Homo sapiens: one gene and its partner. The protein of the gene in region 1 purifies or fractionates together with the protein of each later gene. This does not show direct contact. Each region holds a gene or a part of one and is shown on either strand. Other genes may lie near its edges. The genes, in order: PIP5K1C and SNX4.

Evidence for each region.
Region 2: the proteins of PIP5K1C (region 1) and SNX4 purify together in Homo sapiens (affinity purification with mass spectrometry; one large-scale study listed by BioGRID and IntAct). This does not show direct contact.

What each region holds. Positions count from the first base shown.
Region 1 is NC_000019.10:3,697,583-3,701,959, reverse strand, and holds the start of PIP5K1C (phosphatidylinositol 4-phosphate 5-kinase type-1 gamma), read left to right. Parts: upstream 1-1,491; 5' UTR 1,492-1,569; coding exon 1,570-1,663; intron 1,664-4,377. UniProt on the Homo sapiens protein: Catalyzes the phosphorylation of phosphatidylinositol 4-phosphate (PtdIns(4)P/PI4P) to form phosphatidylinositol 4,5-bisphosphate (PtdIns(4,5)P2/PIP2), a lipid second messenger that regulates several cellular processes such as signal transduction, vesicle trafficking, actin cytoskeleton dynamics, cell adhesion, and cell motility.
Region 2 is NC_000003.12:125,495,963-125,499,774, forward strand, and holds part of SNX4 (sorting nexin-4), read right to left. Parts: intron 2,233-3,812; coding exon 2,097-2,232; intron 2,022-2,096; coding exon 1,872-2,021; intron 1,427-1,871; coding exon 1,379-1,426; intron 1-1,378. UniProt on the Homo sapiens protein: Involved in the regulation of endocytosis and in several stages of intracellular trafficking. Plays a role in recycling endocytosed transferrin receptor and prevent its degradation.

The DNA of each region.
Region 1 (4,377 bases):
CTCGCTCTGTTGCCCAGGCTGGAGTGCAGTGACACGATCTCAGCTCACTGCAAGCTCTGCCTCCCAGGTTCACCCTATTCTCCTGCCTTAGCCTCCCAAGTAGCTGGGACTACAGGCGCCCGCCACCACGCCTGGCTAATTTTTTGTATTTTTAGTAGAGACGGGGTTTCACCATGTTAACCAGGATGGTCTCAATCTCCTGACCTCGTGATCCGCCCGCCTCGGCCTCCCAAAGTCTTGGGATTACAGGCATGAGCCACCGCGCCCGGCCCTGTGTAGATCAATATTATTTACATGTACTGTGTATATCACTGTTATTGGTATATTTTGTGCATATCAATGTTATTGACATGTAGTGTGTATATCAATGTTATTGACATGTAGTGTGTACATTAATGTTATTGGCATGTAGTGTGTATATCAATGTTATTGGCATGTAGTGTGTATATCCATGTTATTGGCATGTAGTGTGTATATCAATGTTATTGACATGTAGTGTGTGTATCAATGTTAGTTACATGTATTGTGTAGATCAATGTTATTGGTATTCATTGTGTATAGCAATGTGATTGGCATGTATTGCATATAGCAATGCTATTTGTATGTTTTATGTAGATCCATGTCAATGATATAGTATAGATTCATGTTATTGGCATGTATTGTGTATATCCATGTTATTGGCATGTATTGTGCATATCCGTGTTATTGGCATGTATTGTGTATATCCATGTTATTGGCATGCATTGGGTAACTCCATGTTATTGGCATGTGCTGTGTAGGTCCATGTGTGGTTTTTTTTGGGACAGAGTCTCACTCTGTGGCCCAGGCTGGAGGGCAATGGTGCGATCTCAGCTCACTGCAACCTCTCCCTCCTGGGTTCCAGCGATTCTCCTGCCTCAGCCTCCCGAGTAGCCGCGATTACAGGCATGTGCCACCACGCCCAGCTATTTTTTGTATTTTTAGTAGAGACAGGATTTCACCATGTTGGTCAGGATGGTCTTGAACTCCTGACCTCAGGTGATCCGCCCTCTTCGGCCTCCCAAAGTGCCGGGAATATAGGCGTGAGTCACCGCGCCCGGCCAGATCCATGTTATTGTCATGCGCTGTGCAGGTCCCTGTTATTGGCATGTGCTGTTTAGATCCATGTTATTGGCATGTGCTGTGTACATCCATATTATTGGCACGTGCTGTATAGATCCATATTATTGTCATGTGTTGTGTAGATCCATGTTATTGGTATGTGTTGTGCACAGCAATGTTATTGATACGTATCGTGCCTGTCAATCTTACTGACCTAATACGATGGAATGGCGAGCCTGGCTCTGTACTCCCACCCCTGGGCGCGAGGGGGCACTCGAGGCGCTCCTGGCTGCGGGTCGCAAGCAGGCCCCGCCCCCGAGCCCCGATTGGCCGCGCGCCGTCCGCGGCGTCGCACGCACGCAGGCCCCGCCCCGTCCGCCCCGCGCCGGCCCGGCGCGCCCTCCCTTGGCCGGCGGCGCTTGTTGTTCGGCGGCGGCGGTCGCAGCTCGGGTCCCCCTCGGGCGCCCCCGCCGCCGTCCGCGCGCGGCCATGGAGCTGGAGGTACCGGACGAGGCGGAGAGCGCTGAGGCGGGGGCCGTGCCCTCGGAGGCGGCGTGGGCGGCAGAGAGCGGGGCGGCGGCAGGTAACGGCCCGGCCTCCCGGGGCTGCGGCCCGCTGGGCTCGTCCGAGCGCCGAGAGTCGCGGGGCTGCGGGGCCGGGGCGGGGGCTGCACGGTCGCTGCGGGGGCGCCGCCGGTTCCAGGAGCCTGGGGCGGGGCAGTCCCCTGGAGCCGCGGGGAGGACGGGGCTGAAGCCGCGCCGGGAAGCGGGAGGCCTGCGAGGGGCTACCTCCCACCGCTCCCGGGCCGGGGGCGACTCGGCGTGGGCGCCGCTGGGGATCCCCGTTCTGCCTGACCCGCTCCCAGGGGCTGCCCGTCGTGTGAGTGGCGGCTGCTTGGGTGGAGGCGGGGGTCTCTGAGGCCGTGCGTGCCCACCTCCTGATGTCACCTCCCTTTCTGTAAGTCCCCAGACCTGAGTCCGGGTGCGCGACCTTTCCTCACCTTCCTGGGCCTCAGTTTACCTCCCTGCTAAAATGAGGGGAGGAAAAGGGTTACATCTCAAGATGCCTCCACCGCCCCGGCTGTGCACACAGGGTGCCCTGTCGCCCCCTTTTCCTCTCCCCGAGCCTTCCCCCAGGACACACTGGTGGGGCTGCGGGCTGGGCGGGGGGCACGGCTGTCTCATGCCCCCTTTAGCTGCTTCCTGGACCTCCAGCCGGGTAGGTGGCGGCAGCTGGGCCTTCCCTTCTGTGGGGACGGTGTGCAGAGCCCAGAGGAAGGGAACAGTTCCTTCTCAGTCGAGGTCACAAGCTCCCAAATCGGAAGTTTCCGGATTCACAAAATCCTCTGCTCCTCCCAGGCAGCCAGCAGCAGCGTCTCTGTAGACACCCACACGGGCATCCGTCCTCCTTCTCCCCCCAGGCCTCCCGAAGCTTCCTTGGTTGGCAGGCGGGCAAGCGGGCGGGCGGGCGATGCGTGCTGCCTGGGAGTTGGGGAGATGTCTGGAGAGAGAGAGAGTGTGGAAGTCATCAAGTCCCCCCCCCACCCCCCGCCTTGAAAGACACTCGTGGCTTCCCTCCCGGCGGCCATCTGGAACCGCTTGGTAGGTGACCCGGTTCCTTCCCCAGAGCCAGTGGCCTCGCCCCTTTCTTTGCGGGCAGCCGGTGTCCTGGCCTGGCCAGCAAGAGACATGGTGGAGGAACCCAGGCAGGGCACCAGGCCCCAGCCCGGGTTCCTTTCTTGGGCCCCCCAACTTCCGCTGTCAGCCCTCTGACCCCAGCTGGTCAGAGACAAAGTAGCCCAGGACTCGCTGACCAAAAGAAAACCACACCGCGACCATTCATCTTATCAGGGGCTCTGGGAGCACCGGGGACAGATAAAGTTGCCAGCTCCAGACTGAGCATGGTGGTGGGGTGGGAGAGCGGGGGAGTGGGGGGGTGGGGGTGGGGGGCCGGGGAGGGCTGGAAGGTCAGGGTCTGGCATCTCTGCCCATCCCTGAAATCCACAGAAATCTGACCCCAGCTGGCCATATACTGCTTCTGAATGTTTAAAATTCAGAGTTGCCTCACTCCTCCAACGCCATCCCTCCTGATGTTAGCGCTGGTGAGTTTAGGTTGTGCCTGGCTGGGCCACAGAGACGTGAGCACATAAAGGGGCCTGCTTGTTCTTCACCGAGATGGTTTCATGCCTCACTGGGGCTTCTGTGCCTTGGCAGAGGTATTTTGAGTCAGGAAATTAGGGGTGCTGAGCAACGCCCCTGGCTTCTGCCCACTCCATGCCAGGAGCACCTGCCAGTTGTGACAGCCACAAGTGACCCAGACACCGTTCAGTGTCCCCTGGGGGCAGGACGGCCCTGGTGAGAAATGCCACACGTTTATGACTCTGTGAACTGCTTGCTTTTTATCTCTGGTCATCTGGAGTCTCCCCACCCTATGTTGGTATCGGTTTGTAGAGAGGGCGAGCGCCAGGCAGTGGTTAAGGGGGAGCCCCAGAGTTGGTCCCGCCGATGTCCCCCTCCCAGCTCCGCGCTTCAGGTGCTGTGTGGCCGTCACTTCCCCGGGCTTCAGCGTCCCGTCTGTGAAGTGGGGTGATGACCGTGTGTGCTAGGGGCTGAGCCTGGGATGAGTTGGCGCTCGTGCTTGGTGATTGTCGTGCCGGTTGGCCACCCCTTTCCGGCCTCTCCACCATCGGTGCCTCCAGGCCCCTGCTGAGGCCCATGCCCGTGGTTTCTGGAGTCACCGCTCACTGTTAGAAGCGATGGCGACACCTTCCAGAAAGCTCAGCTACAGCGGGAGCCTTGTCCGACAGGGGCCGAGGGAGGCTGCCCGTTTCCCACGGCACTGCCAGCTCCCAGTGTCATCGTCCTTGGCGATTTCGGCTGATCCGATGGGAGGCAAAGCAATGTCTCGTTGGTGTTTAGAATTTGGTTCCTCTAATTGCCTGGGCTCCTGGCTCCCGAGGCGTGGCCTGAATGGCGTCTCCATGGGCCGTGGCCGTGGGGCACGTGGGGGCGGTCTCGGGAAGGCCGGGGCTTGGGATGCGGCTGTGCCCACTGTGTGGGCCGATGGCCTGTGGTGGAGTTTGGTCTGAGCTGTGGCCTGGGCGTGTCTGAGCCTCTCCCAGGCTGTCCTGTCTCTGTGATGCCCCAGAACGGTCAGCTCCATCCCTGCCCCTGCCCCACTCCCACGGCTGATCTGTCTCTGTGATGCCCTGGAAAGGTCAGCTGCATCCCTGCCCCTGCCCCACTTCCACGGCTGATCTGGCAGCAAATGATGGCAGCTTCACCTTCAGAACTGGCC
Region 2 (3,812 bases), on another chromosome or scaffold:
TGAATTACAGCCAAGAAAATTCTAATTGTTTCAGTAGAACTGTCAACTAAATATTTATAGCTAGGCACAGTAAAACTAGCACTTCGGGAGGCTGAGGAGAGAGAATCGATTGAGCCCAGGAGTTCGAAACTAGCCTGGGCAACATAGTGAGACCTCATCTCTACAAAAGAAAAATTTTAAAATTAGCTAGGTATGGTGGCACGCGCCTGTAGTCTCAGCTACTTGGGAGGCTGAGGCAGGCGGATCGCTTGAGTCCAGGAGTTCAAGGCTGCAGTGAGCCATGATCACACCACTGCACTCTGGCCTGGGTGACAGAGCAAGACTCTGTCTCAAAATCATAAAAACTCCAAAATATTTATAAATTAGAATCAGTTTATGACAGAACTGGTTTATCATATTTTCTCTGCAGAAAAAAATTTTCCTCCTTCTAGTCTGTTTTGTGCCAAATTTCAAATATCTATGGGCCAATGCATGGGAAGTGTTTTTTAAATTACTGTAAAAAAATTTTCTTCTTCTTGTCTAGACATATTATATTGAACTTTTGGTACTGTATTATCATGTGAGTCATTGAACAATTTATATTATGTTATATATCAATTTATATTCTGTTAGTCTACTTACCTATTCAGTTTACACCAGAGATGAAAACTTTAAAAAGTTTGTAATAACCTTTGTTGTATTTCTTTTAGGGAAGAAATAAACAGCAGCATAGAACTCAAGTGTCCAGCTTACCACTACTAATGCTCCTTGATTTTCAGATCATCATCTCATTCCCAAACACTAATTCTAATGACTAAATTTAAAAAGCTGTTACAAAAACTAAATAATCCTGTACCACTAACAGATAAAACTTAGAACTATTTAAAAATGACTCCTTTGTCCCCATTTCAAACTGACCACCATGTCTCAACAGACAGAAGAAGCATGACTAAGGGCTTATCTTTTAGACTGCTAAGGTTGGACTCTTTCATATGTGATAGAGTGAGCAACTGTCGGGGGCAGGGATACGAATGGAAACAGGACAGAAGAAAAAAAGAGGCAAGGTATAATACTAGTACACTGGGGAAAATCTACAACTTGTATTTAAATTACTGCTTCATTACTATAAACACTAACTAAAAAAAAAAAAAAAAAATTCACTGTTACAAAATGTTCTTTCCCTGTAGAATAAATTTGCCCATTATAGTCTCATAAGTAACTAAAATTACACAAATCAAAAGTGAATTGTAGTGTTTCTTTGAAAACCTTACCAATGATATTTATTGTAAGACGATTTCCAACATTCATTTATTCAATAAATACCAAGTTCCCAATGAGTGCATGGCACCATGCTGGGAACTGTAAAGGAACATGGCAAATTTCATATAAATATTCTTACCTTCAGCTGAAACCCAGTTTCATTCACAGTCTCCTTCCAGTTACCTTCCTAAAAATTGAAGTTAATTTTAGAAATCATTATTGCAAAGCAAATATTCCAAATTAAGTAAATTAAATTTCTATCATTCTGTTCTTACTTCAGCAGGAATTGGAGAGAGAAGTTTAAAAAAATTTCTTTTCACTTCAAAATTAAACATTCAATCCAACTTCTAAAAGATTACCAAAGGTGAACCCAAGATTTTATAGATCTGGGCTTCAAAATACTGAAGACAAATTTTAATATTATTTAAATGATACCAAAAATACCATCATCAGTATCTTTAAATAGAAAAAGTTAACCAAAAGAATGACATAATCCATTAATTAGAAATTCATAACAAAAAATAAATTGCATATAAATTAATGAAAAGATCCTTAAAATAAGTATTCTACAATTTTTTTAAGAAACCCAAATTAAATGAATATTTTACTAAGACTAAATAAAAGAAAAATACCTGTGTTAAAAACAGATAGAAGATTTTGTCTCTACAAAGGATGGGATGTGAAGCAATCCTCAAGAGAAAGTTTTCTAAACCAATCCGTCGCCTCTCCACAAAATCTGGATCCATGTTGTCAGCAGAGAGTTTATGCCAAACAAATTCTGCCTAGGTAAACAAAATAATCATTAAGAATAGTCTCAATGCTGAATACTTCTAAACTACTGCCATTTCACTTCTTACCCGTTTTTCTGGCAGAGGTGGCACAACAATATGTGGATAGTAAACTAAAAGGTAGCTTCTCAACAACTCAAATTCACTATATCGCCGCCATAGTGAGTCTGTTAGGACACTCTGACCATCGGTATGTTCAACTGACCTGAAAAGGAACAGAACAACACTTGTTATTTTTTATAAACAAAAATACATACACATAAATACAATCACCTTTAAAATTATAACTACAGAATGATTATGAACCAGGCACTAAGTAAAGAACTTTTCATACATTTTTCTTTTTTTTCAAGACAGGGTCCCACTGTCGCTCAGGTTGGAGTGCAGTGGTGCAATCACCACTTACTGCAGCCTTCGCCTCCTGGGCTCAGGCAATCCTCCCACCTCAGCCTCCTGAGTAGCTGGGACCACAGGCACATGTCACCACATTGGCTAATACTTTAATTTTTTGTAAAGATGGGGTCCAGCTATGTTGCCCAGGCTGGTGTCAAACTCCTGGGCTTAAGCCATCCTCCTGCCTTGGCCTCATGTATTTTCATATTTAATCCTTATGACAACCCTGTGAGGCAGAGATTTATTATCCTCATTTTACAGATGAGGACACAGCTGCACAGTATATGCTCTGCCTATGATCACAAAGGTCTGTGGATAAAGCACTCAGATCCATCTGATTTCAAAGCCCTTACTCCTAACCACTTTCTTTCTGTTACAGAAAGCCTGTTTAAACATAAGAGAAACAGTTTTATTAGGAACACTCTAAAAGCCTTAATGCATAAATAATTGATTTTATAATATGATAAAATCTAGTTTAGCTAGTGTTTCATTAAATAAAAAGCATTTTTAACTTCACTTCTGCCAAAATGAGAGAATAACATTCACAACAAAGACCAAGACACCACAAAAACTTCAATTTAGGTTATTAATAAATCAGATTAATCCAAGTACCAAGAAATATCCAAAAGAACAAAATATTAGTTAGCTCTGAAAGAGTGGCGAAGAGGGGTCATAAAAATTCATCTCCAGTCTTACTTTTAATTATAAAGGGCTGGTAGGCAATGCCATGTCTCATACATACAAAAGTTCAATTTACTTTTGGCAGAAAGTTAAGGTAAAATCATATAAAGGATATTTTAAATATTTTGACTACTTAGGATTTCTTGCCAGCATAAGTAAGACCTATTAGGAAGCACCAGTCTTCTAAACATTATCAGGACCTTGCTATTTTCTAATTTGCTTGACAATAACCTGTTTGCCCTCCATGAAATGCACAAGGTGTATTTGTACATTAGGACAAAAAGTCACAGAACTTAAATCAGTCTCCAAATAGTCTAGAGAAAGTATTTACATCATGCCATGCTCAGCACAATAGATGCTCATTTTTATCATTTTTTAAGTTTGCTACTAAATTTATTCATTGCATATTAATAAAAATGAACCAAAATATGAAATGCAAAATTCACAAATGGCTCCCATGGCAAAAAAATAGAATTATTAAATCATAATTCATTTTAAAGAGTATACCTAGACATTAGTTATAACTAATACTATCCCAATTACAATGCCCAACTTCAGCTGAAAAATACTTGGGTTAATCTCAAGTTTCAAATTATTCAAAATCACTACCAACAAAACCCAAAACTTGTAAATAAGTGGATAAATAAAGCCTATAAGCAGTACACCTACAGGGCTGATAGAAGGTCTGCATAAGTGTTTAAAAAAAAAAAA